Homo sapiens: one gene and its partners. The protein of the gene in region 6 purifies or fractionates together with the protein of the main gene of each other region. This does not show direct contact. Each region holds a gene or a part of one and is shown on either strand. Other genes may lie near its edges.

What was found.
Region 1: the proteins of ATAD3A (region 6) and MRPL23 purify together in Homo sapiens (tandem affinity purification; one large-scale study listed by IntAct). This does not show direct contact.
Region 2: the proteins of ATAD3A (region 6) and E2F3 purify together in Homo sapiens (pull-down; one large-scale study listed by IntAct). This does not show direct contact.
Region 3: the proteins of ATAD3A (region 6) and PRORP purify together in Homo sapiens (tandem affinity purification; one large-scale study listed by IntAct). This does not show direct contact.
Region 4: the proteins of ATAD3A (region 6) and FASTKD2 purify together in Homo sapiens (tandem affinity purification; one large-scale study listed by IntAct). This does not show direct contact.
Region 5: the proteins of ATAD3A (region 6) and L1TD1 purify together in Homo sapiens (co-immunoprecipitation; one large-scale study listed by IntAct). This does not show direct contact.
Region 7: the proteins of ATAD3A (region 6) and GUF1 purify together in Homo sapiens (tandem affinity purification; one large-scale study listed by IntAct). This does not show direct contact.

The regions. Positions count from the first base shown.
Region 1 is NC_000011.10:1,950,332-1,953,715, reverse strand, and holds part of MRPL23 (large ribosomal subunit protein uL23m), read right to left. Parts: intron 2,818-3,384; coding exon 2,695-2,817; intron 1,590-2,694; coding exon 1,507-1,589; intron 935-1,506; coding exon 861-934; intron 1-860.
Region 2 is NC_000006.12:20,408,379-20,411,878, forward strand, and holds part of E2F3 (transcription factor E2F3), read left to right. Parts: intron 1-3,500.
Region 3 is NC_000014.9:35,265,552-35,269,051, reverse strand, and holds part of PRORP (mitochondrial ribonuclease P catalytic subunit isoform 1 precursor), read right to left. Parts: intron 2,326-3,500; coding exon 2,177-2,325; intron 1-2,176.
Region 4 is NC_000002.12:206,772,106-206,775,605, reverse strand, and holds part of FASTKD2 (FAST kinase domain-containing protein 2, mitochondrial), read right to left. Parts: intron 3,426-3,500; coding exon 3,286-3,425; intron 1,382-3,285; coding exon 1,209-1,381; intron 1-1,208. UniProt on the Homo sapiens protein: Plays an important role in assembly of the mitochondrial large ribosomal subunit.
Region 5 is NC_000001.11:62,201,349-62,204,848, reverse strand, and holds part of L1TD1 (LINE-1 type transposase domain-containing protein 1), read right to left. Parts: intron 1,403-3,500; exon of another isoform or gene 1,292-1,402; intron 1-1,291.
Region 6 is NC_000001.11:1,518,662-1,522,161, forward strand, and holds part of ATAD3A (ATPase family AAA domain-containing protein 3A), read left to right. Parts: intron 1-259; coding exon 260-329; intron 330-1,479; coding exon 1,480-1,645; intron 1,646-1,886; coding exon 1,887-1,956; intron 1,957-3,500. UniProt on the Homo sapiens protein: Essential for mitochondrial network organization, mitochondrial metabolism and cell growth at organism and cellular level. May play an important role in mitochondrial protein synthesis. May also participate in mitochondrial DNA replication.
Region 7 is NC_000004.12:44,691,920-44,695,419, reverse strand, and holds part of GUF1 (translation factor GUF1, mitochondrial), read right to left. Parts: intron 1,009-3,500; coding exon 907-1,008; intron 1-906. UniProt on the Homo sapiens protein: Promotes mitochondrial protein synthesis. May act as a fidelity factor of the translation reaction, by catalyzing a one-codon backward translocation of tRNAs on improperly translocated ribosomes. Binds to mitochondrial ribosomes in a GTP-dependent manner.

The DNA of each region.
Region 1 (3,384 bases), on a different chromosome or scaffold from region 6:
CATCTAGTGGCAGGGCCCGCCGGCTCGGCCTCCAGGGACCATTTACACCGGAAGACAACCCCATCCCCACCCAGTAAGGCCAGCCCCAGGGGCAGAGTGGGGAGGCCCAGGAGGCGGCCGGGGCAGGCTGTGGACATCTTGGCCCAGAGAGAAAGTGCCTCTGGGTTTGCCTGGGACTCAAAATGAAGAGCCCAAAGAAAGGCTTTGAAACTGTGGGTCTCACTCCTGACAAGTCTGGGTTTCAGAAACTGAAGGCCCAGGCAACGTGGGGTGAGGGTTCTTCCTCCCCAGAGCCCCCCAGGATACGTAAGAAAGCACCTGCTCAGAAGCAGCCTGCTGAGCCCTAACAAGTACGTGGGACCTGCTACCCTGCAATGCAGGACATGGGCCTCAGCCAACAGCCCGGCCAGCCAGACCTGCCTTGGCACCAAAGACCTTTGCCCTCAGGGGCCTCACACTCTGCCTCCGAGGCTGAAACCCAGCCAAGGACAGGCTCTCCAGAGGCCGGGGCCTCCCATGCTCTGACACCCTGGTGTGCGTTGGAGTTGAAACCCACTAGGCCTGTGATGGCTGCCTTTGCCCACAGAGAATTCAAACTTCAAAATCACAAAACGGCCGGACGCTGAGACGTGCCCCATGTGCCCCAGTGCTCACGTGCTCCCAGCGCCACCACTAACACCCCCAAGGCCGTGACGGAGCATGACCTTATGTGGAGCCTGCCTCTGCGCTGAGGCCCTGAGATCCGGCCTCACGGGGGCTCCCTGGGCCCCAGCGCAGCGTCTCCGGCACAAACATCCCCAAGGACACAGTTGCGAGGAGCCCCTCGGAGGCCCCGCTGGGGCTGGCCAGCTCACACGCACCAGCTGCACGTAGGCGACCTTGTAGTCCGGCTTCTTGATCCTCACGTTTCTGTGATCTCTTCTCTTGTTAGAGCCTGCCGGAAGGGAGTGAAAAAAAAATCAGAACTTTAAAAAAATCAGAACTTTAAAAAATTACATCCTCAGAGGTCAATGCCACTAAAACGAACCTCTGCTCTCTTAAAAATGTAAATATGTTTTTAAAAACTCAAAAAGGCGATTTCTCAGGGAAATGGGCACTGTAATCAAACGAGCCAGCACAGCAGGCTCCCAGGCTCCTCCCTTCTCCCAACAGAGGCCAGCAGGTTCTCAACAAAGGAGCGGACGTGGCACCAGCCAGGGCACACGACAGGGGCTTATGGAACAGACAGCGCTTTGCTCCCCAGCCTCAGCCACTGCAGTCCCACCTCGGGGGCTGACGGCAGGAGTCAGGGCTCAGAATGGACCCCGGGCCAGCCCAGTTGAATTCCAATCCCTGCTCTGGCACGTAAGCACCGTGTGACCCTGACAAGTCACCCTGTGCCTCAGTTTCCCATGAGCCACGTCAGACCAAGACCCCCATGCAGTAGCTGAGGCTGTGGCTCGGCGAGGTGGGCATGTGGCACAGATGGGCACGACACCAACAGGAGAACCTCCCATGGGCACTCACCATGCTGCACCCGTGTCCGCACAGCAGCCACGGGCACGTTATAGATGCCCTCGAGGTAATTCCTGAGGTCCACCCTTGTCATTCTGGAGGCGAAGGAGAAAGAAAACGGCATCTTAACCAGGCTAAAAGCCAAAAATACTGTCCCAGATGCACAAGCACCCGAGGCTGAGAGGCCGACAGACCAAGACCCACAGGGGGCAGGGAGGAGGGCTGGGTACATCAGCGGCACTAGTGAGGCCAGGCAGCCCCAGCAACACCAGTGCTGCTGGCTGCAAGACTCCCTACTCTGGGCACACCAGCATGGGGTGGCAGTGGCACAGACCCCACAGAGTGGGAGCACTGCCCAACCAACCCCTGGCCTGCTCCACAGCCCCACATGGCTCCCTGCTCCGGGCAAGTGCCTGTGAGAGGAGGTGACAGTCTCTGCACGCTCCTGGCTGGCAGGTGCCCCACCTCGTCTGCCCCGGGGCCCAGTGGCCGCATCAGGGTTAGGCCTGCTCTGCGGCTGATGGGACTGATGCGGTTCTAGGAAGTACCTTCTGGAAAGGCCTGCCTGGCATTCGGTGCGTTAACTGCAAGTTCCCTCTACTGCAGAACCTCACGGTCACTGTCAACTCAGCTTCTGGGCCCCTGCAGGCTGCACAGGCCTGACCTTCGCCCCCAGGGGAGCTCACGCTGCTGCCCCGCCTGGCTCGCATCAACCCTGAGCTGGGGACCTGTGAACTTAAACACTGCAGAGCAGCACCCCAGTTTTGCTCGTAGGGACTGTGCATTTCTCTGAAGGTCAAGCAGGCTCTTCTGAGCGGTTCTGTACATCACGGCCTGCTCCCAACCCAGCCTCTCAGGGCGCCTCTCCTAAAAAGAAGCTGCAAGAACTCAACAGAAGACGCGAGCACAGAGGTCCAAATTTTAAGGCTTCCAGTGAAGCCGTCCCCGGGTGGAGGGCGGCGTGCAGCCTGCCTGCCGGGCTCCACACCTACAGGCACTCCATCAATACTTGCCGGGCAGGGCCGCCTGAGGTGCCTTCCCAGCAGGAAGAGGCTAGCACGTGAGCAGAGTTGTTTTAACTCAGGACCCAGGCCCCCCTGAGGGCACTCTCCCAACCCAGCGGGAAAACTTCCGGGCTCACTCCACGGGGATCCCCCCGAGGGTGCTCCCCAACCCCAGCCGGAATCCTCCCGGACTCACTCCATGGGGATCCGGAACTGCACGGTGTCCTCGGGCTGGGCCACACCGGGCCGCACCAGCTGAATGAAGAAGTTGGTTCGGAACACCCGAAGTTGTGGGCCACCCAGCCGGTACAGGGGGTACCTGTACAGAAGAGATTGGGTCCATGTCACACACTTAGGCCAAGGCAGCCCGACACACCAACCCTGCAGACCTCCGAGTGTCCACTCACAACAGGGTGGGCAGAAAAGGGGGTAGCTAACACTGCGGATCCCTGAGTGTCCACTCCCAACAGTGGTGGGCGGGAAACGGGGTAGCTAACCCTGCAGACCCCCGCGTGTCCACTCCCAACAGTGGTGGGCGGGAAACAGGGTAGCTAACCCTGCAGACCCCCGCGTGTCCACTCACAACAGGGGTGGGCGGGAAACAGGGTAGCTAACCCTGCAGACCCCCGCGTGTCCACTCACAACAGGGGTGGGCGGGAAACGGGGTAGCTATCAGCAGGTCACCACCCAAGGACACAGAGGTCCCCACAGCCCCTTTCTCACATGGGCCTGCCAAGGTGGACGGCCAGTCCCTAGCATCGACTTAAGGAGCATGCGCTGTTGACCCCCAAGGTCAGACTTTAGAAAAGGCCAATGGACAAAAATCAGAACCCCGCAGACAGCATTCCCCCAATAAGCTGATGGCAAGGCTCAAAGACGTGTGTTG
Region 2 (3,500 bases), on a different chromosome or scaffold from region 6:
GAGGGAAATTGGTTTATATTCTGTTCACACTTGTTTCAAACCCTCTCCTCTAAAAGCAATGTGTTTTTGGAATTCAAGGAATGTACGTTCTTTCCCCAACCTTAACTGGGGGTCAGTCTTATGGCCACCATATTTGTCTACAATATAACTTTTAAAAAATATAATTTTTGCCCTCAAATACTCTCCTATCCAATGCAATGTAACTTTGAAGGAGAAGTGATGAAGGCCACTGGTTGCCAGATTGTATCACACAGCCAGATGCACTTTGCTTTGATGAAGAATCTAAGTGATGCAGGCCCCCACTTAGCTTTGTAAACTAAGGCAGGGGTTTATGTCAGCTCGAGGTAGAAAGCAGTGAGAATTGGCAGCTGATGGAATAGAAAGGGGACAAAAAGAATAAAAAATAATTGACTTTAGTCTGCTTTCCATTACCGTAGCCCAACTCTCTGGGGCCATTTGTGTGGTCTAGACAACATTCTTAGAACTTGACAGTCCCTGAGAACGATATTCTAGGTTGGCATGGGCAATAGTTGGCATTTACACTGGTCTTGGAATCATAACATTTGAGAAGTGTAAGGCACAAGAGTCCTCATCTGCCCAATCCCCTTCATGTTGCAGGTGAGGAAATTCAGGCCCAGTGCTGTTAAATTACTTGCCCAAGGTCACAGGTCTTTGCTAGTGGCAAAGCCAAAACCGAAACGGGAGACTCTTGAATTCTTAGAAGCCTCATTCACCAAGAGAAGGTTAACTGTGTCTCATGAACCCTATATGGGAAAATTGGGGTGTGTAGGACACATTTTAGATTTCCTTCAGGAGTGGTTACCTTTTTTAAAAATGCGCACATAAAGAAGTGTCCTTTAAACAGTTGGCTGTGGGGGTAATGACTTATTCCCAAAGATACAAAATAAGCAAGGCTACTTTGGATGTTAAATGAAAGGGAATTATTTAAAAAAGGAAAGAATGACTCTTCAAAACGTGATAGTAATATTTTTAAAGATTTATTTGATATTCGCAAATTTGTCTTCTGTGGTTATATCAATTCTGTTGCTCAAAAAGTGACACATGCTTCATAGAGAATAGAATCTAAAAGGATTTTTGAGACTTTCTTGGGGAGAAGGACACACAGTGCCCCTCTGGTAGTAACGGAGTTTTGTCCTGGGCCACCAACATCCTGAGTGACTGTCATGCTTTCAGAGGTCCCCAGCCCTTGCCCAGTAACATTGAACAAGGTGTTCTTCCTCTGTGGTTAGCTCCAAGATTTCTGGTTTAGCAAAGTGGCTAATCAGTTAACTCTTTAAGAGGAAATTGTCATTCCTTTAGCCAACGCTAATTTCCTTAAAATGCCTTCTTTTCCTTTTTGGAACTGAGAAAGCTTAAAAATAGAATTGCTTCAAGCCCTGAGGCCTGAAAGTGAAACATAATCTAACGTGGCTGTAGTGCACTGACTCGTTAGGGGCAGCGATATATGGCTTATCTGTAATCCACAAACCAGAAAGGTGCCCAGTGTAGATACGGTCTAACAGCCAGTGAGCATTAAGTACCAACTGATGAGAGTAGTAATCAGTGAAGCTGATTTCCTCTGGAAAGTTTTTTGGCGAGTAGAGTTTGTCTTAGAGAGTGGAGGATTTGAATGCCTCTTGACTTTCTGCTGAGGAGAGCTTCTGCCTGCTCTAGTTTTTATGATCCTGAAGGGTGGTAGCTCTGGACTCTGAGAATGATGGGCAGTGAACTCAGGGTCTGTATATTTCGTTCCACTCTGCTCTTCCCCATTTCTGATGCTTTGGGGGCTCCATTTCTGATACATAACCAGAGCAGCATCCCTGAGGCCCACACTATCTCCTGTGTGCCTTTCTGCATCTGGCAGTCCCTTGGAGAGAAGGAGGCTCATGTGTTTATAACCTGCACCCTGTCCTAAAAGGCATAGTGAGGGGCAGCTGAGTATAAGGTCAGGCCACTTAGCCTGGAGCCAGAGTGCCTGTGTTCTTGTTCTGGCTCTGCTCACTAGCCCTGTGACTTTGGGCAAGAAACTTGGCCTCTATGTTTTCATTTCCTCATCTGTAAATTGGGAGGAATGATAGTACCTACCTTATGGGGTTAGGAAGTTGCAATGAGTTCTTATTTGTAAAGTGCTTAGACCAGTGTCTGGCACGTAGGAAGGATTATGTGTTAAGTAGAAACATGGTATAATTGCCCTTCCTTCCACAGGCATCTCATGGGCTGTCCTTTTGTGATCCATTTTCTTGGTTTGTTTTTGTTTTGAGACCAAGTCTTGTTCCGTTGCCCAGGCTGAAATGCAATGGTGCAATCTTGGCTCACCGCAACCTCTGCCTCCTGGGTTCAGCCGATTCTCCTGCCTCAGCCTCCCCCGTAACTGGGATTACAGGTGTGCGCCACCACGCCCAGCTAATTTTATTTGTATTTTTAGTAGGGACGGGGTTTCACCATGTTGGTCAGGCTGGTCTCGAACTCCTGACCTCAGGTGATCTGCCCGCCTCGGCCTCACAACGTGCTGGGATTGTAGGCATGAGCCACTGTTCCTGGCCTGATCTATTTTCTTAACTAGCCCTTAGTGTTCATTTCACCCCATTGCACCTCTCTAAAAATGGTGATGATGGGAAGGAGAAGTAAACCGTGGAATGGCTCTCGCCTAATGCAGTCTTTAGGGTCTAGGGTCTTTGTATTTCTTTATAAGCTGCCCATTGACTTGGGAAAAAGAACTGAAGAATAAGCTTCTTGTAGTAGTGCTATCAGTAGTGATAGTGTCATGAATAAAACCTTTATTTCTGTGATTAAATGTATTAATAAAGTGACACTACTAGCATGAATGACACTATTAACATAATTTCAATCCTGTACAGTAAACCATGGCTTAAGACTGAATGGCAAGAATCAGGGTGTCTGAGCTGCTGGGCCCTGCCAGACTCGGAGCCCCTGCCAGTGTGTGTATATCAAGGCAGGGCGGGGGGTTGTCTTGCTCTCCAGAGGCAATGGAACCTGCCTCTAGGCCTCCCTTTTCCCTTCTCATCTCCTCACCCCTCCTTTTTTATGTTAGATCTATTCCTACCCCTTCCCCTTCGCCTTGCCCTCTGCCTGGCTCTTAGAAGGAAGCAGACTTGCCACCTTCAGTGGCTGCTTCCCGGACTTACCAAATTAATTACCACCTTTTCCTGCCATCAAGGGATGGTGAAATCTTGCCTTTTCGGTCTTGCTTCCCATTCCTCTGCACTCGGCTGCTGCGACAGTGTGGTGCTGCAGGCACCGCAGATTTCCCTCTGGTGTGTTTGCTCGTAGCTTCTCCCTCTCCACCTTACTCCTTTTGTTGCCCTCCTCCCACTGGCCCATTGAGGCCCACATCAAGGGAAGGCGTAGGCACAGCCTCCCCCAGTTTCCCAGGGGCTTGGGCCTCTCCCTTCCCTTGGGTTACTGCTTCTTTCCTGTAACACCTCATGGTCTGCCTCGTAGCCTAATCTTGCATGTTCATGACTTACTCCTCCTCCAAA
Region 3 (3,500 bases), on a different chromosome or scaffold from region 6:
CAATGTTGCCATTAGGTCTTCTGCTCTTGGAGAAATGGAAGCACCATCTTCCAGCTAAAAAAAGAAGGGATGTGGTTTGGGAACTGGATGAGAGGTTTGCTTCTCCCTTGCTTTATGATTGAGAGCTACTGTACTTTTTAAATAATAAATGATTTGGGGGCCAGGCGAGGTGGCTCATGCCTGTAATCCTAGCACTTTGGGAGGCTGAGGTGGGTGGATCATGAGGTCAGGAGTTCGAGACCAGCCTGGCCAACATGGTGAAACCCCATCTCCACTAAAAATACAAAAATTAGTTGGGCATGGTGGCGGGTGCCTGTAATCCCAACTACTTGGGAGGCTGAGGCAGGAGAATCGCTTGAACCCGGGAGGTGGAGGTTGCCATGAGCAAAGATTGTGCCACTGTACTCCAGCCTGGGTGACCCAGTGAGACTCCGTCTCAATAAAATAAATGATTTGGAGAATACTGACAAATCTTGAAGTTATCACATTCAGACTATGAAACCTAGATTTGGGGCTGAGGCATATACACTCATTAAGCAAAGTTGGAAATAAACTTTTGTTAGCACAAACAATATGAAAACCTCAATGCACAACAGTGCATTGAGTTCATATGTGCTGTTGCGGATCTGTACTCCTCCTAATTAGCTATTTTCTTCTTACTTTATGGCTACTGTAGGTTTGTGGGTTGTTTTTTTTTTTTTTTTTTTTTGAGACAGTCTCACTCCGTAACCCAGGCTGGAGTGCAGTGGCACGATCTTGGCTCACTGCAACCTCGGCTTTCCAGGTTCAAGTGATTCTGCTGCCTCAGCCTCCCGAGTACCTGGGACTACAAGGCGTGTGCCACCACATCTGGCTAATCGTATTTTTAGTAGAGATGGGGTTCACTATGTTGGCCAGGCTGGTCTCAAACTCCTGATCTTGAGTGATCTGCCTGCCTTGGCTTCCCAAAGTGCTGGGATTATAGACATGAGCCACTGTGGCTGGCTTACTGTAGGTTTTGTTACTGACCATGTTTACCATGGTTCCTTTGGCTTCCTGGGAAGCTGCAGCTCAACAGCAATTTTCTCCCTACACTTAGAATAAAATCTAGGCCTCTTGCTTGTCTACCAGGATCTGCAAGGTCCTCTGCATTGCGGTTTCTGCCTTCTCTCTAATCTCAGAGCTTATTACTTTCCCTCTTGCTATTATAGCCCAACTGGCCGTGTTGCTTTCCTCAAACACATGCCAAGCTTATGCCTGCCTCAGGGCTCCTTTGGGCTCCTTTTTTTTTTGAGATGGAGCCTCGCACTGTTGCCCAGGCTGGAGTGCAGTGGCGCGATCTCGGCTCACTGCAAGCTCCGCCTCCCGGGTTCACGCCATTCTCCTGCCTCAGCCTCCTCAGTATCTGGGACTACAGGCGCCCGCCACCATGCCCGGTTAATTTTTTGTATTTTTAGTAGAGATGAGGTTTCACCGTTAGCCAGGATGGTCTTGATCTCCTGACCTCGTGATCTGCCCGCCTCGGCCTCCCAAAGTGTTGGGATTACAGGCTGAGCCCGGCCTGCATCGGGGCTTTTTAAATATTTCGTATTATTTGGGATGGTCTTCCCACCACCTCTCCCCATTTCTCAAATAACTCACTCCTCATCGAATCTGCCCCCTCAGAAAGGCTGTTCCTGACCACCCCATTCACAACCCTCTGACCTATCCCTTACCTAAATTCTATCTACCTTGCTTTATTGTCCCCATAGTACTAATCACTGCCTGGAATGACATTACCTGTTTGTTTATCTGTTTATTGTAAATTCTAAGAGGGCAGGGACTTTGTCTTTTTCACTGCTCTTTCTCCAAGAACATAGAAGGTGCTCCTGTTTGTCAAGTATTTGCTAAATGATCTACTTAGGATCTTATGGCATGTATTCGGTGTACTAATCTCACTCCTGACTTAACTTCCCTCCACTTCTCCTTTATCCTGATTTCCTCATCTGTTTAAGTTTATCCTGCCGTAGAAACTGTAGTGTTTTTCTTTTTTAGAAGAAACCGTAGTTTTGTAAGTTGTCTCAAATCTTTTTTTTTTTTTAATGAGGGTGAGTATACACATACACATGCATTTAAAAGATAGGTTTAAAGTAGGTAACTAACAAGCAGATAGATGTCTGCAGCACAGTATAATTCACCTATTACCTCCAACACTTACATGTCATCAGCAAAAAAACAGCTGGCTTGCTTTTGCACCTCTTCCATCTCATCCCGACTCCACTGGGAACTCCGTCTTAGCATGTGCTTCCGGCCTAGGACCAGCAGTCGCAGATTCCGTTTGGCTAGTTGAGAGACGACATTCAAGAGCTAAAAAACACAAAGCCAGAACCACAAAAGTTCAAGGGAAGACTCTCAAATTAGTGGAGTGATTTTTCCAGCAGGCCACCTCAATGGTGAAGCACTCTTTTCTGGTAGGGGGTAAGAAAACAATCCACAATAATTTCCCATCTTTGAAAGCCTGAGGAAAATGCTTCCCTATTACACATTAATGTCTAACATCTGCCTGCTGGTCAGGCTACATTGCAGGGGGGGGTTTCTTTATTTTTGTGTGTGGGACAGGATCTCATTCTGCTGTCCAGACTGGAGTGCACAGGTGCAATCATAGCTCACTGCAGCCTTGAATTCCTGGGCTCAAGCAATCCTCCCACTTCAGCCTCCTGAGTAGTTGGGACCACAGACGTGCACCACGTCTGGCTAATTTTTTTTTTTTTTTTTTGAGACAGAGTTTCACTCTTGTTGCCCAGGCTGGAGTACAATGGCGAGATCTCAGCTCACTGCAACCTCTCCCTCCTGGGTTCAAGTGATTCTCCTGCCTCAGCCTCCCAAGTAGCTGGGATTACAGGCATGCGCCACCACAGCCAACTAATTTTGTATTTTTAGTAGAGACGGGGTTTCACCATGTTGGTCAGGCTGGTCTCGAACTCCTGACCTCAGGTGACCCACCCGCTTCAGCCTCCCAAAGTGCTGGGATTACAGGCATGAGCCACCATGCCTGGCCTAATTTTTTTTTTTTTTTTTTTGGTAGAGATGGGATCTCACGATCCTGCCCAGGCTGGTCTTGAACTTCTGGCCTCAAGAAATTCTCCTGCCTTGGCGTCCCAAAGCACCTGGATTACAGGTGTGAGCCACTGCACCCAGCCTAGTTCAGCTGTTTTAAACTGTGCTCTCTAGGGCCCACTAGGATAGAGATAGAGAGGCTCAAGAGGGATGGGATTTTGTTTCCTATACATGTCAAACCTTGTTTCGACCCAAACGGCTCAACCTTTATATATTTATCATATTGGTATTCTACATAAGTTTTGATTTGAATAAAAGCTTCTACTTCTTTTTAAGTTTGTAAATGATTAGACTAGACAGTGACTTTTCTATGTTATGACTTTATTGCTAATACTGCCTCCTTTCATTGAAATCCCCTTTTCTACTAAAGATCTGTCGATTTCTACCCTGTAGCCTACTTTCCAGTCAGTTACTTTATCCCCATT
Region 4 (3,500 bases), on a different chromosome or scaffold from region 6:
TCAGACAAAGACACATCAAAAAAAACAAAAAACAAACAAAAAAACTACAGCACAGTATCTCTGATGAAGATTGATGCAAAAATCCTCAAAAAAAATACTAGCAAACCAAATTCAACAATACATTAGAAAGATTATTCATTATGACCAAGCAGGATTTATCCCTGGGATGCCAGGATGGTTCAACATATGCAAATCAATCAATATGATACATCATATCAACAGAATAAAGGATAAAAACCATATGATCATTTCAACTGATGCTAAAAAAAAAAAAGGCATTTGGTAAAAGTAGAACCCTTAGTAAAAGCAGAATCCCTGTATGATCCAGGGATCTCACTTGTGGATATATTTCAATTCATAAGAATTGAAATGAGAATCTCAAAGAGACATCTGCACTCCCATGTTAAGTGCAGCATTGTTTGCAATAGCCAAGATAGGGAAACAACCTAAACATCCATCAGCAGATGAATGGATAAAGAAAATGTGATATATACATATAATGGAATATTATTCAGCCTTAGAAGGAAATCTCATCACATGCTACAATGTGGATCAACTTGAAGGGCATTATGCTAACTGAAATAAGCTAGTCATAGAAGGACAAATACCGCATGACTCCACTTATATAAAGTATCTAAAAAGGTCAGTCATAGAAACAGAGATTACAATGTTGATTGTCAGGGGTGAGGAAAGGGGGAAATAGGGGAGTTGCTATTCAACAGGTATAAAGTTTCAGTTATGCAAGATGATTAAGTCCTAGAGATCCACTGTACAATATTGTTAACTATATCATTAATAATAAAGTCAGCAATATTGTACTGCACACTTTAAAATTTACTAAATGTTCTTACCATAATAAAAAAAGTCAAATTTTTTAAAAGACAGATTTCTCCATTTTTTAATACAGTTAAAATAAACTATGAACTTAGGAGCTACGAGGATAAGCTGGGAGGGTTTGAAATCAAACTCCTATAATGAATTAACTAATACATTATAAAGAACAAAGAAACAAACAAGACAAAGGGCAGCAAATATAAAACAAAATTTTGTTTAACCTTATAAATGAGTAAGGAACACTATGTTTTATTTATTGGCATGGATGATGACTATGGGTGTGTTCACTTGTAATAATTCATTAAGCTTATGATTTATAACCTTTTTTGTAAGTTATATGGCAATAAAAAAGGTAAAAAAAAACAAGTACATACTCTTTGTTCTGGCATTTGTAGACATGATTGAGAGAAGAGTAAGTATGAAGAATAGATAGAATGTTTTTCATGTTTAGGGATTCAGGATCCTCTACTATTCTCTTCATAAACAGGTCCATTAAACCAACAGGTCGAAAGCCAAGGTTTTCAAATAAAATGAGGATAAAAAGAACCTTAAAAAGAGAAAATTGAGGGAAAACTCTATAATAATTACAGTATGCTAATAGTAATTTTTTAGATCTCAAAAAATCTAAGCAGCAATTCAACTGTCCTGATCAACAGAATATATCCTGAAACAGAATATTTCCATGAAAAGGAACAATCATCTTTCTCTCACAAAATCTGTTCTATTAATTCTTGAATTGGGTATCAAGTTAATAAGCAATCTTTTTTAAGCTGAGAACCAGGGCATACAATGATTTCTACGTTTCCATCTGATTTAAAAATAAATCTCTTCCTACATGCTTTTCATACAACATATCTGAAAATTACTTTTAAATATGCCTTTTCTGAAGGTTTTCAAAATGACCAACTCAATCTTGAACTTCTCGCATTCCCAAACTTAAATACTTCCTAGATTCTAACATGTAAGACATAACCCCAAAATTTCTATATTTAATATTCATACCTATAAGTGAAAATGGAACTGAAACATTATGATTAAAATAAACTTTCAAGTTCACCTCCAATTTCCTTCTCAATCTTTCTTACTTAGGATTATTACTTCTCTTTCTATAACCAATTTCCACAGTAAACTCAATATTTACCTTACTCTCCAAAATAAACTGAACCTAGAGATCTAACAGTTATCACCTATTTCATTGCAAAAAGAAGTTTTTACCAGGTGCTTCATTAAATGTTTATATTCTTAACACAGCTCCTGATTTTAAAGGCTTTTACTCTGGATAAAACAATGGACATGACCATTAAGTAGTGACATTTTATTCTTCAAAAACCCCAAGCCTGTCACATCACCCATCTTTATTATTTGAAATCTAACAAGAACAAAGTATAAACACGGAAATCATGCTAAATATCTAACAAAAGTACCATACAACCCTTTTTTTTTTTTTTTTTTTTTGAGACAGAGTTTTGATCTTTATTGCCCAGGCTGGAGTACAGTGGCACAATCTCAGCTTACTGCAACCTCCACCTCCCAGGTTCAAGTGGTCCTCCTGCCTCAGCCCCCCTAGTAGCTGGGATTACAGGGACACGTCACCATGCCCGGCTACTTTTTGTATTTTTAGTAGAGATGGGGTTTCACCATGTTGGCCAGGCTGGTCTTGAACTCCTGACCTCAGGTGATCCACCCACCTTGGCCTCCCAAAGTGCTGGGATTACAGGCGTGAGCCACCGCGCCCAGCCCATACAACCCTTTTAAAACGAAAAAGAAGAGCAAATTTTTGTTTCAAATAGAAAGATGACCAAAGGATAGAATAGTATACAGATTGTCCTTGACTTACGGTGGGGTATATCCCAACAAACTCACCATAAATTGAAAATATTTTAAGTCAAAATGCATTTAATACATCCAACTTACTGAACATCATAGCTTAGCCTAGCCTACTTTAAACACGCTTAGAACACTTACATTCACCTATAGTTGGGCAAAATGAGTTAACAAAAAGCCTATATTATAATAAAAGTGTTGAATATCTCAAGTAATTTATTGAATACAATATGCATTGTTTACCCTCATGATTGCACAGCTGATTGGGAGCTGCGACTTGCTGCCACTGCTCAGCATGAAAAGAGAGCATCATACAACATATCACTAACCCAGCAAAACAACAAAATTCAAAATTCAAAGTATGGTTTCTACTGAATGCGTATTGCTTTTGCAACATCAAACAGTCAAAAAATATTAAGTCAAGCCATCCTAAGTTGGGGACTATTCATATTAGCAAGTAGCCCCCAGACAGGAATAATAAGGAGCTAATTTTTCAAAAGTCAATTCAGCATTGGAATATTTTGGTATCTTAACTACTATAAAGGTGAAAGAGAAATACTTAAAATGCTACATGAATTAGTGTTTTAAAAGTTTGTGAGGCTTATTCTAAATTGTTAATGTACTCACTTTTCTGAACTTCCAGATGTCGAAAGTTGCAGCCACATAATCTGCAAGTCCCTTGAAGAGATCCAAATTATGGTACTGGAGGTCTTTGCAGGACTGCAATATGTTGATCATTATTCTTAAAGGACACCCATGGATATTATCTTGAAGAATGAGTTAAATAAACAAACAAAAATTACCTGATTGTTTTGAATACAACATGCTTTATTCTTTTTTCA
Region 5 (3,500 bases), about 61 Mb from region 6:
GAGCTGACATCGCACCATTGCACTCCAGCCTGGGTGACAGTGTGAGACCCTGTCCCCTCCCCTGCAAAATAAGAATCACATAAGCAGCTAAAATGTCATTCTTGTCAGGGCAAAAGATATATGCTCAGCACCCAACCAAGAATTTCAAGCAGGGCACGGTGCCACACCTGTAATCCTAGCACTCTGGGAGGTTAAGGTGGAATGATTACTTGAGCCCAGAAGTTCAACATCAGCCTGGGCAACATAGTGAGACGCTGTTTCTAAAAAATAATTTCAGAAATTTTTCATTGCAATAAAAATTGAATCAGGAAAAAGGATAGCATAAAAGTAAAAGATAAATTAAACTTAAAAACTTCTATGTTTAATGTTTAAATACTAAAGGTTAAAGTTATTTAAATTTTAAAATGACTATTCAGTCAAACTAATGGAGAAACTTAAAATACTAAATCAAAATGATAACTACCTATCAAAACTTGGGGAATGTAGCTAAAGTGGTGCTTTGAGGAAAATGTATAGACTTAAAATTTTAGAATTTTCTAGAAAGAATAAAAATTAAAGTTAAATTACCAGATCAAGGGCAAAATCTACCCAAGAAACCAAAAGAGATGCGCGCAAATCAAAGAAATGAAAAACAGAAACTTATAGAGAATTAACAAAACCAAAATACAAATAAGGAATACTATGAATAACAAGGGGACACAACTACAGATAAAGCATGGTTCAAAAATGGGAGCACCATTCAACTTTCATAATTAAATCAGAAAATTTAGAAGCAACTATTATCTTAGCTGTGCCCAAACTCTTCTAGAGAATAGCGAAAAAAGGCCAGGCACGGCGACTCACATCTAGAATCCCAGCACCTTGGGAGGCCAAGGCAGGTGGATCCCCTGAGGTCAGGACTTTGAGACCGGCCTGGCCGAGATGGCGAAACCCCATCTCTACTAAAAATACAAAAATTAGCAGAGGCCAGGCGTGGTGGCTTACACCTGTAATCCCAACACTCTGGGAGGCCGAGGCAGGTGGATCACAAGGTCAGGAGATAAGACACCATCCTGGCTAATACGGTGAAACCCTTTCTCTACTAAAAATATAAAAACAAAAAATTAGCTGGGTGTGGTGGCAGGCACCTGCAGTCCCAGCTACTTGGGAGGCTGAGGCAGGAGAATGGCATGAACCTGGGAGGCAGAGCTTGCAGTGAGCCTAGATCGTGCCACTGCACTCCAGCCTGAGCGTCAGAGCGAGACTCCGTCTCAAAAGAAAAAAAACATTAGCCAGACGTGGTGGCACGCACCTGTAGTCCCAGCTACTCAGGAGGCTGAGGTATAAGAATCACTTGAACCTGGGAGGTGGAGGTTGCAGTGAGCCAAGATCACGCCACTGTACCGGGCGACAGAGTGAGACCCTGTCTCAAAAAAAAAAGAGAGTAGAATGATAGTTACCAGAGCCTGGGAAGGGTAGTAGGTGGGTGGATGTAGGGAATAGGGATGGTTAATGGGTACAAAAATAATCTAGTATTTGATAGCACAGCAGGGTAACTACACTCAACAATAGCTTATTGTATACTTAAACAGTATAATTGGAATGTTTGTAACAAGAAGAAATGATAAATGTTTGAGGTAGTGCATAGGATACCCCCATTTACCCTGATGTGATTATTACACATTGCATGCCTGTATGGAAATAAATATATACATCTACTATGTAACCATAAAAATTTAAAACAGGCCAAGCGCAGTGGCTCACACCTGTAATCCCAGCACTTTCGGTGGCCGAGGTGAGTGAGCGGATTGCTTGAGCCCAGGAGTTTGAGACCAGCCTCAGCAATGCAGTGAGACCTCATCTCCAGTTTTTTTAAAAAACAAATTAGGCTGGGTGAGGTGGCTCATGCCTGTAATCCCAGCACTTTGGGAGGCCGAGGTGGGCAGATCACCTGAGGTCAGGAGTTCGTGACTACCCTGGCCAACATGGTGAAACCCTGTCTCTACTACAAATACAGATTTAGCTGGGCGTGGTGGTGGGTTCCTGTAATCCCAGCTGCTCAGGAGGCTGAGGCAGGAGAATCAGTTGAAGCCAGGAGGCGGAGGTTGCAGTGAGCTGGGATCGTGCCATTGCCTCCAGCCTGGGCGACAAGAGCAAAAGAGCAAGACTCTGTCTCAAAAAAAAAAAAAAAAAAAAAAAATTAAACCCTGGATGTGGAAGTTGCAATGAGCCCAGATCACGCCTCTGGGCTACAGAGTAAGCCTCTGTCTCAAAAAAATAAAAAATAAAAAATTTTAAATGAACAGCTAAAAAAAAAAAAAAAGAAAAGAAAAAGAAAAAAGCATGATAGTTACAAAAAATTGTTTAAAAAACACGGCACTCATTTATCACAAAGTAACTTCCAAAATATGAGCAACAGGAGGTAAGGGGGACAAATGTATACAGAAAATCTTGATTACACCAGAGTAAAGGTCAAAAGAGGAAACATGTAAAACATGTAAATGATTACTAAAAAAGAGAAGGAATCAATATTAATTACACATTTCACCCTCAGCCTTTTTTTTTTTTTGAGATGAAGTTTCACTCTTGTTGTCCAGGCTGGAATGCAATGGCATGATCTCGGCTCACCGCAACCTCCACCTCCCAGGTTCAAGCGATTCTCCTGCCTAAGCCTCCCAAGTAGCTGGGATTACAGGCATGTGCCACCACGCCTGGCTAATTTTGTACTTTTAGTAGAGACAAGGTTTCTCCGTGTTGGTCAGGCTGGTCTCGAACTCCCAACCTCAGGTGATCCACCCACCTCGGCCTCCCAAAGTGCTGGGATTACAGGCGTGAGCCACCTCACCCAGCCTCATCCCTCTTAATTAAGTAAATTTTAAAAACCCAGCACCAGTAGTGTCTGAATCTAATCAAGGACTGAGAAAGCAACCAAATAGTCCACCGGACAGGTCCATAGGACCCTATACAGGACTTCAACAGGAATAAAGGGGCCCACTCTCATTCAGGAGACTAAGGGAATTCACTAGATGCAATGTACGCTCCCCCTATTTTGGATCTCTATTTGAATGAATCAACTGTAAAATGCAGGGAGTACTGAATATGGACTGATTATTAAATATTGAGGAATATATATTTTATTAACTGTAACAATACTGTATTTAGTTAAGAAAGTCTCCTTATTTTATAAGAGCTACATACTGAAGTTTTTACAGGTGAAATGGCATGATGTCTGGGATTTACTTTAAAACACAGCAAACAACTAAGAAAGAAAAAAGAGAGATTAAACAAATGGGGGAAAATATTTGTTTTTGAATCTAGGTGATGAGTTCTTACTTTTATTGATGTTTGAATATGCTAATTTTTTTTTTTTTTTTTTTTTAAGCAGGGTCTCACTCGCCGAGGTTGGAGTGCAGTGGCACCGGGTCTAGCCTGATAATGCTTCTAATATTTTTTTTTAAACTGAAAATCCTTAAGGAAAACCACTGAGCTCTCCCTGGTGAAATAGACTTCTACTTGACTTG
Region 6 (3,500 bases):
CGGGTACACACACACACACACACACACACCCAAACGGGTGCACAACCCACCCACACATGGGCACAATCACCCCCACACACATGGGCACAGTCACCCGCCTGCACATTCGGGCACCGTCACCCCCCGCAAACGGGCACCGTCACACCCCGCAAACGGGCACACTCACCCCCCTGCACACTCGGGCACAGTCATCCCCCGCACACATGGGCACAGTCACAGGTTTTAAAGGCTTTTCTCTTTTTCTGCGGCTTCTTCTCAGCAACTTCTCAATGAGGAGAATTTACGGAAGCAGGAGGAGTCCGTGCAGAAGCAGGAAGCCATGCGGCGAGGTAGGCTGTCTGCTCTCCTGGCTGGGGCGGAGGTGGCGGGGGCTGCTTGTGGACCCGGCGTGCACTCTGAGCCTGAGTTCTGCCGCCCGGCCCCTCATAGCTACCAGTGCAGTGGGCGAGGCCTGCTGGGGCTCCGCGGGGTGGGGCTGCCTCTCGGAAGACACCTCTGTCTGCGAGTGGACGCCAGGATCTGTTCAGGGAGGGCAGGAGCTGCTTCACTTCATGGGAAGTACAGGGGCCTTTTTTTTTTTTTTGAGACGGAGTCTCGCTCTGTCACCCAGGCAGGAGTGCAATAGCACGATCTCAGCTCACTGCAACCTCTGCCTCCCAGGTTTAAGCAATTCTCCTGCCTCAGCCTCCCGAGTAGCTGGGATTATAGGCTCCCGCCACCACGCCCAGCTAATTTTTTTGTATCTTCAGTAGAGAAAGGGTTTCACTGTGTTGGCCAGGCTGGTCTTGAACTTCTTGATCTCATTATCCGCCTGCCTTGGCCTTCCACAGTGCTGGGATTACAGGCGTGAGCCTCTGCGTTCTGCCTAGAACATGGGTCTTTACTGTCCTGGTTTCAGTGGGGATCACAGGTATTTGGTGCCATGTGGCATTTGTTGGCGAGTGCTCCAGGCAAACGTCTGTCACCACTCTTCACCGTGGGTGGGCTTGTGGCGAGGTGTGTGCGTTTAATGTTCAGTAGCCAGGCACGTGGCACGTCACGCGTGTCTGAGTTCTGACAGCTGTGTTTCTGTGTGAGGGGGGCTTCCTTCAGAACTCCGCGTTCTGGTTTTTTGCTTCAAAGAGCTCGTCCTGAGAAGTTGCCTAGGCCTCTGGGTCGGATTTCTGCCCTAATCCATGGGCAGGGCCGGCCTGTGGCGCTGTCCCTACCAAGGTCTGTGTGTGTCTGTGGCATGGACCTGTCCGTGGCCTTAGCCTATTGGCGGCGTGGGCCTGTCTGTGGCGTGGGCCTGTCCGTGGCCTTAGCCTGTCAGCAGTGTGGGCCTGTCCATGGCGTGGGCCGGTCCGTGGCATGGGCCTGTCTGTGGCGTTGGTCTGTCCGTGGCGTGGGCCGGTCCGTGGCGTGGGCCGGTCCACAGTGTGGGTGGAGGTGGACGCGCTGCACTGCATGGTGCTGAGCTGCCCTGCCTCTCTGGGGCAGCCACCGTGGAGCGGGAGATGGAGCTGCGGCACAAGAATGAGATGCTGCGAGTGGAGGCCGAGGCCCGGGCGCGCGCCAAGGCCGAGCGGGAGAATGCAGACATCATCCGCGAGCAGATCCGCCTGAAGGCGGCCGAGCACCGTCAGACCGTCTTGGAGTCCATCAGGTGAGCACTGCCGAGGCCCGGGCCGGCCACAGATGGAGCCCCGCAGGTGTGAGTCGCTGGTCCCAGGGCGCTCTCCAGCTCTTCCAGGCCTTGCCGCCGTAGGCTGACTCCTTGGTGGGGGCACTGCCCCTCTGTCCTGGCAAGGCCGTGCCGCCATGTCAGGGCCTCACCCTCAACCTGCTCTCGCTGCGTGGCACGGATCTTCGTGTCCTTCCTGGTCACACCACTGCTTTCCCCGCAGGACGGCTGGCACCTTGTTTGGGGAAGGATTCCGTGCCTTTGTGACAGACTGGGACAAAGTGACAGCCACGGTAAACATACTCATAAAACAGGGCTGGCAGGTGGCTGAGGGGCAGCATGTGGGGGCCTCCTGGAGCCCCAGGTCCTGTCCCTGCCGGCTCTGCACAGCCCTGTAGCTCTCCCAGCAGGGAGGAAGCCCACGTTGTACCTGCTGGCCTCGGCTTCTCCTCCCTTCTCAAGCTGGGAGAAGAAAACGCAGTTGCCAGCCTGGGCCACACAGTGAGACCCCATCTCTACAAAAAATCAAATATTAGCTGGGTGTGGTGGCAGCCCCTGTGGTCCCACTACTCAAGAGGCTGAGGTAGGAGGATCACTTAAGCCCAGGGAGGTTGCAGCTGCACTGAGCTGAGATCGCAGCACTGCACTCCATCCTGGGCGACAAAGTCCTTGTCTCAAGAAAAAAATTGTCGATAGTCGTGGCTCACACCTGTAATCCCAGCACTTTGGGAGGCAGAGGCAGAGGCGGGCGGATCACGATATCGGGATCGAGACCATCCTGGCTAACACGGTGAAACCCCGTCTCTACTAAAAAAATACAAAAAATTAGCCGGGCGCAGTGGCGGGCGCCTATAGTCCCAGCTACTCAAGAGGCTGAGGCAGGAGAATCACCTGAACCCGGGAGGCGGAGCTTGCAGTGAGTCGAGATCACGCTACTGCACTCCAGCCTGGGCCACATAGTGAGGCTTCTTCTCAAAAAAAAAAAAAAAAAAAAAAAAAAAAAAACCAGAAGGCAACCCTGACTCCATTTTGCAAAAACCTTCTTTATTCCTTATAAAACCCTGAGAGTTTGAAGTTCACAGATTCTTCTCTCGTTTAAAGCCTCACTCTTTTGTGCCCAGCCTCCGGCCTGCTGTGGTGGCGCCCCACGTCCCACATGGCTGTGTCCTCCGTCCCCACCCCGCCCAGCACACGGTAGGTGCCCGGCACTGAGTGGGCACTTGCTCTGCCGTGGTGCCGGCGCCCAGAGCTGTGACTGCAGCGCCTGCCGGTGGCCTGGTCAGTGTGACGGTGAATGTTGCAGGTGGTGTTGCCACCATGTTGGTGAGACCGTGTCACGTGAGGACATGACGGAGCTGCTTAATGCGCCGATGACTTTTGTTTGTTTGTTTTTAGAGACAGGGTCTTGCTCTGTGGTCAGACTGGAGTGCAATGGTGCCATCTCGGCTCACTGCAACCTCCACCTCCCCAGTTCAAGCAGTTCTCCTGCCTCAGCCTCCCAAGTGACTGGGATTACAGGCTCACGTCACCACACTCAGCTAATATAGGCCTGTGCCACCAGGCCCGGCCAATTTTTGTATTTTTAGTAGAGATGGGTTTTCACCATGTTGGCCAGGCTGGTCACGAACTTCTGACCTTAAGTGATCCAGCCGTCTTGGCCTCCCAAAGTGCTGGGATTACACGGGTGAGCCACCGGGCCTGGCCTAATTCATTTTTTGTTTGTTTGTTTTTTGAGACAGAGTTTTGCTCTTGTTGCATAGGCTGGAGTGTAGTGGCGCGGGTCCAGCTCATTGCAACCTTTGCCTTCCGGGTTCAAGAGATTCTCCTGCCTCAGCCT
Region 7 (3,500 bases), on a different chromosome or scaffold from region 6:
TTAGAAATACAACATTAGACAATAGAAACTGTTCTTGATTCTCTTTCCTTACCCGCTGAAAACGGTTAAACATTTTGGAATGATTATTTTAAACAGTTATCTTTCTAATCACTTTTTTGCATTTTTTTGTATGATCAGTGTTTACGATATATTCTACCCTCTTTATATTTAACAGACATTTTTATGTCACTAAATATTACTCCACAAGTTTTAATGGCTGAAAATAACAATATGGGTGCTTTGTAATTCATTTTAACCAATCTGCTGTTTCTTGAACACGTGGGGGTTTTCCTTTTTATAATTTTTTTACAAATATAAAAGGGCGCGGTGGCTTACGCCTGTAAATCCAGCACTTTGGGAGGCCGAGGCGGGCAGATCAGAGGTCAAGAGATCGAGACCATCCTGGCCAATATGGTGAAACCCCATCTCTACTAAAAATACAAAAATTAGCCGGGCATGGTAGCATGCGCTTGTAGTCCCAGCTACTCAGGAGGCTGAGGCAGGAGAATTGCTTGAACCCGGGAGGCGGAGGTTGCAGTGAGCAGAAATTGCGCCACTGCACTCCAGCCTGGCAACAGAATGAGACTCCCATCTAAAAAAAAAACAAAACAAAACAAAAAAACTTGTTCCCAATTCTAAATCCATCATTATAAAATGTTTAAAACTTTTTTTAATATGGTGAAGGGAAACATTTCTATGACACTGTTCTTTTTGACTATTATAGCTCTGTTCTATTTTTAGCAGTCTAGAGAGAAGTGTGGAAAAAAAAGAGAAAGCAAAGTTAGTAGGGTGAACTCTATTTTAATTACCTTAGAAGTTTTTTAAATGCAGCTGCTCAAACAAAAATAAATGAAAAACATATCAAAAGTATTTTCACATTCCATGATTAGTTTCTATTGAACTTACTTGTGTACAACAGTTACTAGCTCCTCTACAGTATTTCCATTCAGTAGAATATCCATTTTTACAAGTTCTGCAGTCTGGTAGCCTGCATCTTCGTAATCAAAACTAAAAGGAAAAAAGTCCAAGTGATAAATATTACACTTCCTGAGAGATTACCTTTATTACTCTTTACTCTTTACTAAATGTCTACTTTCTACCGCATTACACTCCCCAAAGAGATATGTTTCCATCAAAATATTACATATACAGTTTCTTGTGAATGGATCTAAATGTTATCTTTTTATGTTTATTAAATCAAGGGCAAAAGCAAGGGGAATATGTTTATAGGGGAAAGGAAAATAAGCTGGTGAACCTGACAAAGAAAATGGTTTATTGAAGACAAATATCATGCCTTCCCAATGTTCCCAGCAGCTGGGAGGCTTCGGACAATACTATATATTATTAATGGATCATTTTCAGATTCATGAGTTGGGTTTCTGTTTAACTTTCTATTACCAATGACAACTCTATGTTTAAATAAATGCTATGACACTCATAAAATGCCATTAATAAATGAGACCTTTGGATTTCCTATTTGGCTCTTCAGCTTGCATCTCCCTTCACAGGGCTTTTGTGAGGATTAAATGAGTTAATACATGTAAACCAATTAGAGCAATGCCTAGTACATAATAAGTGTTTAAACAGAGCCTAGCTTAGCACACACAAGCACTTAGTTTCAGCTATTACTTTTAACAATGTGGTCAAAGCTTGTAATGTTAGTCAAAACAGACATTTAAATGTTTCACTTATAAAACTGAAGTCTAAAGAAAATTTCAATTAGGCTTACAAGTTGTCCCAATCACAGACAAGAATATGTATACTCCTATTGTCTTAATTTTAAAACAATTGGTGCCTGGACTTGCAAAATTATATTTGGTTTCTAAAGATTTTCAGCAGGAAGGTCATAAAGTGACAATAATACACTCTATTAACAGATTATTTTCAGAAGTACTGTTAAAATCCTTTCTTTCTTCAGGAAGCATCACTTATACATTTACTGTATGAAAGATACCATGTTAAGTATCATACAGAATACAAAGCAAATAGAGAATAAAACAGACATGGTCCTTAACTTTGAAGTTGTTACAGCTCCAGCTATGTTGTGGTCCAAAATATTAAAAATCTTAAAAATTTCTTAACTCATTTTTTCAAAAGAAATCATTATAAAAATTGTGTTTTTGTTTCCAAGCAGTCCAATTGATACCTAACCTCTATTGAAAACATAGGTATTCTAGTGTTTCCTTAGAATGCAGGAAACACATTTGTAATTCCAAAAAGCTACTAGTTGCTGTTGATTCTTGCCTCCTGGTATGAAATAAGTTTTTTCCTGATCTTAATTCATAGTCTATGATGACTTTCTGTTAAGTGTGGAATTGACTGCCTATGTAAAACATCCATCTTGAACATAATTACCTTAATGCTGGAAGCTGGAATATTTTATTTTTATGTAGTTCAAAAATAAATCATGTTCTCTCATTAAATTCAAAATGTATTTAAGTTTCCAAACGACAAGGCTTTTTAAGACCACTTATAATTCAGAAAGTAGTACCCAAATGCAAACTAAAATTGACAGACTTCTGTTAAAAATATTTATAAACATTAAACCTACTAATCTTCCTTTCAACTCTAGTAATTTTAATATGCCCCTCAATTCATTTTACTTTAAATTCCATTGCCACTTACTTGCTCAAGGTCTTGTCTGAAAGAAGACATAGAAGAAGAAAAAACTGGGTGACAAAGTAGAAGAAAATTCTCAATACAAAGGAACATGAAGATTCCTTGGTAAGAAGAATTATATATGCTAACTCTCTTCACTGACAAGATGATTAAATAAAGTTAAACTTCCAAGTCACTGTAGCATGTTTGTTAAACACTGGAATTTGTCTCTGCATGTTAACATTAACATTCATGCACTGTGTGGGAGTTTTATAGATGTCAATGTTCATTTTTCCCCTCCTGCTTCCCCATGTTTCACATCTGTTTTCTATATATACTATCCCGTAACATAAGATTTTAGGGCATAGTGAGGGTATCTAGAGTTATATGCCCCAACAACAACAACAACAACAAAAAACAGCCTCTCAGAATGCTATGCCCTGAGTTTCTTATTTGTTATTTAATAGTAACTCTCCTTTCACTTTTATCTGGCTTTTCTCCATGTACTCCTATGAGATACACAAAGGTTTTCGTGATGAGGACAACCTGTTCCTCAAAAGACTAAGTTATTAAAGTGTTCACTAATGGAGCGGCACATCTAACATTTTTTACAGACTGAATATGCACTTTTATTTTTCAAATGTAAATAGATGCTCTTGAGATTGCATAACATAAATATACATTTTAAAAGTGCCACTGAGGTTATGGTAAATTTTTGAAATTAGGTCTAATTCTTAACAGACAAGGAATACAGCTCTTCATGAAAAGGGGACTAACTTTTTTTGTTAAAAGAGAAATAAAAGTTAGATAATAAATCAAAGGAAACTTTTCTCCTATAAGCAAATCACAAGTAGTCTGTAACACCTATAAAGTTGTTCCAAGTCATTCTAACCTTAGAGTAT